Regions from separate parts of the Homo sapiens genome. Here region 1 is linked to region 2. Evidence: fine-mapped expression QTL. A gene starts in region 2. The other region holds a variant in brackets. All regions are shown on one strand. Distances are from middle to middle.

Region 1 (2,907 bases), 33 kb after region 2:
AAGAGTGAAACTCCGTCTCAAAAAAAGACTTTATGAGGTGCTCACACAAGGCACAAACAAAACAAACAGGAAAGATTCCCCTTCTGTGAATTTTAGGACTAACGGGAAAACCAGAGACCTTTTTTCCTTGGGCTTAGAGTTCCCGTCATCCTTTTAAAAATCTTATGCTCTTTAAAAAAAAAAATTGTGGTTAAATACACATAACATAAAATTTGGCATCTTAGCCACTTTTAGGTGTACAGTTGAGTGGCATCAAGCACAGTCACTGTTGTGCGATCATCGCCACCATCCATCTCCAGAACACTTTCCACCCTCTGAACCTCTTTCCCCATTAAACAACAACTCCCCACTCTTTCTCCGTCCCGCGCCTGAGAACCACCATCCTACCTTCTGTCTCTGTGAATTTGACTACTCTAGGGATGTCCGTTCCACGTAAGTGGAATCAGACCGTAATTACCCTTTTGCATCTGGCTTATTTCACTTAGCATAATGTCCTCAAGGATCTTCATGTTTCAGCATGGATCAAAATTTCCTTTTTTTTTTTTTTGAGACAGAGTCTCACCCTGTCACCCAGCCTGGAGTGCAGTGGCGCTATTTCGGCTCACTGCAACCTCCGTCTCCCAGGTTCAAGCGATTCTCCTACCTCAGCCTCCTGAGTGCTGGGATTATAGGCACGTGCCACTACGCCCAGCTAATTTTTGTATTTTTAGTAGAGACAGGGGATTTCACCATGTTTGCCAGCCTGGTCTCGAACTCCTGACCTCAGGCAATCCTCCTGCCTCAGACTCCCAAAGTGCTGGGATTACAGGCGTGAGCTACCTGCTCTGCTTTTTAAGGAACTGAGGCTAAGATAGACATTTCCTGTCGCATGTCTGCTGAAGTTCTACCAGGGAAGATAAACCACAGCTTGTGAATTTCTTTGCAATTGTAAGCAAAAAGCATCATCAAGTGATCTGCCTGTGGTATGATAGAAACACCTGCTCCAGAAATTAGAACTCCTGGATCTACAAACTTCATCTCTTACTCAAAGCAACTAAATTATTCTTCAAAGAATAGGTAACCAGGCCAGGCACGGTGGCTCATGCCTGTAATCCCAGCACTTTGGGAGGCCAAGGCAGGTGGATCACTTGAGGTCAGGAGTTCAAAACCAACCTGGCCAACATGGTGAAACCCTGTCTCAACTAAAAATACAAAAAATTAGCTAGACATAGTGACTGGTGCCTGTAATCCCAGCTACTCGGGAGTCTGAGGCAGGAGAATTGCTTGAACCCAGGAGGTGCAGGTTGCAGTAAGCTGAGATCACTCCACTGCACTTTAGCCTGACCGATAGAGTGAGACTCGGCCTCAAAAAAAAAAAAAAAAAAAAAGAATGTATAACCAAAAATGGAGCAAAACATACTTACCCTGCCTCACATTTGTGAAGATTAACAAGCATTACAACACTTTACAGCACTTACGGAATGCTTGCTCTACCA[T/C]ATGATCTCTTTCGATGTTCTGCCAACGAGCTAGATGTTTTCACTTTTGATTGAAGATAAACCTTGTTTTCCTTGTTTTGTTGCGATCATGGCTCACTGCAACCCCTACCTCCTGGGTTCCGGCAATTCTCGTGCCTCAGCCTCCCAAGTAGCTGGGATTACAGATGCGTGCCACCACGCCCGGCTAATTTTTTGTATTTTTAGTAGAGACAGGGTATCACCACGTTGGCCAGGCTGGTCTTGAACTCCTGGCCTCAACTAATCTGCCCACCTCAGCCTCCCAAAGTGCTAGGATTACAGGCGTAAGCCACTGTGCCCAGCTAAGCCTTGTTACTTCCATTTTTCAAATGAGCACTCTGAGACCCAGAGAAGTCAAGTAATTTACCCAAGAGCGCACAGCTGGTTAGTACGAGAGTCAGAAATTAAGCGCAGGTTTGTCTGACCTCAAACTCAGCATTGCTCCACTGTATTGTTCAGCCTGTCTGATTAGGTAATACAGGGAGGGATGTTCAGCTCCATAAAGCATAGTAAGATGTACCCTGGGAGCTGAAGACACAGCTAACTACATTTTTCCTAAGAAAGCCTGTGTTCTTTGAGGCCTTTTGTTCTGGAGGTAAAGCACAAAAATCAGTGACTCAGGGGGACAAAAATTGGGCTTTTTAATTTCTGTTCTGTCGGCCCGCAATTCCCTGAACACCCTTTTTCCACTAGAGAGATCTCCAAACTCCATCTTTGCCATAATTGTTTAGATAGAGTTGGGGATGAGAGGGGCTGGCAGGAGGGATTACCCTTGCCGTGATGTTTCAAGTTGTCTCAAGCCCATGACAAAGGCTGGCTCTCTCTTATAAGAGGTATAGATTGTATCAAGGAATAGCAACTTTACCGAGAAAAAGGGATTAGAATGTTGGAACAACGAAGGCATATTAATAAAACTGTAATCATGCTTGGATAGGCATTACCAACCATAGAAGAAGTAAGTCTGAAAATCCCAAACCTTCATCGGCTGCTCAAAAGTTCCAAAGTGTCATTGCAGCACTACTGACAAGAGCAAAGATGTAGAACCAATCCAGGAGTTCATCAGCGGTGGATTGGATAAAGAAAATGTGGTATATATAGACCGTGGAATACTATACAGCCACGAAAAAAGAACTAACTCATGTTCTTTGCAGCAACTTGGATGCAGCTGGAGGCCATTATCCTAAAGGAATTAACCCAAGAACAGAAAAACAAACACCCCCCACATGTTTTCACTTATAAATAGGAGCTAAGTATTGGGCACACATGGGCATAAAGATGTGAACACTAGACACTGGGGACTCCTAGAGTGGAGAGGGAGGAAGAGAAGCAAGGGCTCCAAAACTACCTCCTGGGTACTATGCTCAGTACCTGGGTGATGGGATTGCAGCAGCATAATTAAGGAATCACAGAGACC
Region 2 (2,907 bases):
CAGACCAGAATATAGATTTCCCTCCCTACACCTTTCTGAAATCCAATGCATCTTATCCCTGTTAGGTGTGTTTAATGTAGCATCATGGCCAAGAAGCAGGACAAGAGGACCTGTCTCCAAGTCATCTTTGCAGAGGTGGGGCCTCCTAACCCTGACAAAGTATTCAATCCAATATACGACCTACAGTCAGGAAATAGGGTGTAATTTCTCATTCAGAGCTGCAGTCCCTTTGATACCCTGGGGTGAGCCCTTCGTGCCCAGCTGCATCCTGCTGCCCGGCTGACTGTGGGAGAGGAGGAGCCGGGGGGTGTGAGCAGAGGTGGTGATGGACGCGGGATGGGGTCCCTCCAGCATCCTTACCATTGACCTCATCTCTGGACTTGGGGGACCGCTTGCCGCGCCTCTTGAGGAAATTCGAGGCATCTGATTCCTGCATGAAAATCTTCTGTTTTGCATCTGAAACCCGGGAGAGGCCTGTCACCAGCAGTGTGGGGGTGCTGGGGCTGCTGCTTCGCTGGCTGCACCTGCCCTGCCCCGTGGGTGGCCCCTGCACTCACCTTCACTCGCCTCTTCTCCCGCCATCTGCATGGTGCCCACAGATACACTGGTTCCCTCTCTCAGCACTGCAGGACAAGGGCACAGAGTGAGGCTGCAGCATCAGAGGGGAGCCCAGACCCTGAGCTGAGTCCCCATCTCTCTTTCCAGGCTAAGCGTCCTGCCAGGGCCTGGCAGGGGGCCCGTGGTTTCTCACGTACCAGCTGCAGAGCCAATCTCCCCAGGAACCCACCAAGCAAGCTGGCTTGGGTTTTTTTTCTATTTTGTTTCTTTCTTTACTGTTTTTTATTATTATTATTATTTTTCTGTATTGCATTGTGTCCTACATGCACACGACACACACATACACACATGTTAACAATAAGCATACTCCTTTCTACCTGCATCACCTGAGCAGCCTTACCTGTGCATGGTAAGTCTCCCTTACCATGTAACTAACACCCTCCACCTTGACCCTCCTGTACTCACTAGACAGGAGCACCACGGCGGAGAAGCAAGACAGCAGGACGGCCTGTCTCCAAGTCATCTTTGCAGAGGTAGGGGCTCCGTCCAGGACCCACAAGGCAGACCAGGCGTCCTGCACCCTTTGGGTCCCCACTTCTGAGGCAGGCAGCCCAGGCGAGAGGAAGGAAGGCGGGGGAGGGAAGAGAGAGGCAGGAGGCTGGGATACCACTGGGGGAGAGGAGGAGGGGGCTGGGCTGCCCTTTCCATTGGCTGCTCCTAGATGGAGCAACGGAGATGTTTTTGGCACCTGGCAAATGTCTCCAGAAGCAGAGCTTGTAGTTAGGGCCCTGGGTGGGACGGTCTTGGAGTGGCCTTTCCAATGTCCGTGTCTGGGGATCTGCTGCTGGGAAGGCTCATCCTAACAGTCAGGGTTCCAGTGACCAAGGCCTGTGTCAAGGAGGTCCTGGCACCTGCTCCAGGGACGTTAGGGCCCCGGTCCTCAGGGTTGAAGCATGGGTGGGGGCAAGGAGGAAGAGAGGATCAATGGGGGAGTTTTGATCTAAATGTCAGTCAAGAAGGGCTCATAATGACTGGAATACCCATCAGGGTGACACACAGACGTGTGGGTCATGCTGACAGCGACCAGAGAACACCTTACCTGATGCACTGCTTCCAGCTGATGCTCACTGCCAAGCCAAACACAAACTCCTGGGGCCGCGGGTCCCAGAGCCCTTTAAAGTCAATTGCCTTCCCGCGGTGGCTCATGCCTGGAACCCCTGCACTTTGGGAGGCCGAGGCAGGCAGATCACCTGAGGTTAGGAGTTCGAGACCAGCCTGGCCAACACGGTGAAACCCTGTCTCTATTAAAAATAAAAATAAACAAATTAGCCGGGCATGGTGGCGGGCGTCTGTAATCCCAGCTACTCAGGAGGCTGAGGCAGGAGAATCACTTGAACCCGGGAGGCAGAGGTTGCAGTGAGCCGAGACCGCGCCACTATACTCCAGCTGGGGTGACAGAGCAAGACTCAGTCCCAAAAAAAAAATACATATAAAATAAAATAAAATAAAAATTTAAAAGTTAAAAACAGCGGCCGGGCACGGTGGCTCACGCTTGTAATCCCAGCACTTTGGGAGGCAGAGGTGGGCGGATCATGAGGTCAGGAGATCGAGACCACGGTGAAATCTCGTCTCTACTAAAAATACAAAAAAAATTAGCCGGGCGTGGTGGCGGGCACCTGTAGTCCCAGCTACTCAGAGAGGCTGAGGCAGGAGAATGGCGTGAACCCGGGAGGCAGATCTTGCAGTGAGCCGAGATTGCACCACTGCACTACAGCCTGGGTAACAGAGCGAGACTCCATCTCAAAAAAAAAAAAAAAAAAAAAATTTAAAAACAGCAAGGCCAAATTCAATCACCTTCCACAGCGGAGGGGGAGAAGGGCAGGTATCTGAAAAGCTCCACAGCTAATCCTGCATCTCTAGGAAGACACACATCATACTCCATGTAGGGGAGGAAATGGGTTCCCAGAAATGGGACCACTAATGAAATCAGCACCAACATGGCCATTAGAGCTCAGTCCCCTTGGAGATGTGTTCCTAATGTTGCCTTTGTTAGGAACCATCAACTCTTTGCTGTCAGCCTTCTGGCATCGTTTAATGTTTGTCTAATGGGAACCATCACTAGACCTAGAACCCAGCCCATACCTACCTGAAGCTCCCCTCTTACAAGACTTTTATGTTAGCTAGGCAAAGTGGCTCAAGCCTGAAATCCCAGCCCTTTGGGAGGCCGAGGCAGGAGGCTCACTTGAGGCCAGGGGTTGGAGATAAGCCTGGGCAACATAGCGAGACCCCCATGTCTATTTAAAAAAAGAAAGACTTTCAGTCGGGCGCAGTGGCTCATGCCTGTAATCT

Alleles and levels. Positions count from the first base shown, and alleles are read on the strand shown. Sizes are in standard deviations (SD) of each study's normalised expression.
In carriers of allele T in region 1, the expression in uterus of the gene that starts at base 1,197 in region 2 tends to be lower than with C alone (large effect, 1.0 SD a copy in GTEx).

The links. PIP is the estimated chance that this variant, and not a neighbour inherited with it, causes the effect.
Region 1: its variant is the best candidate, but not a certain one, in a credible set for the expression of UCMA in uterus (GTEx, PIP 0.71).

The regions. Positions count from the first base shown.
Region 1 is chr10:13,265,855-13,268,761 of GRCh38, forward strand. No RefSeq gene overlaps it. Among named protein-coding and RNA genes, the nearest start is that of PHYH, 33 kb to the right of the region's middle. The variant T/C (reference allele first, on the strand shown) is at 1,476.
Region 2 is chr10:13,233,178-13,236,084 of GRCh38, forward strand. UCMA (upper zone of growth plate and cartilage matrix associated) reads right to left here and starts at 1,197. Exons shown (of 5, transcript NM_145314.3): 1 at 1,024-1,197; 2 at 558-623; 3 at 361-456. The coding sequence starts at 1,081. RefSeq lists an enhancer at 900-1,810.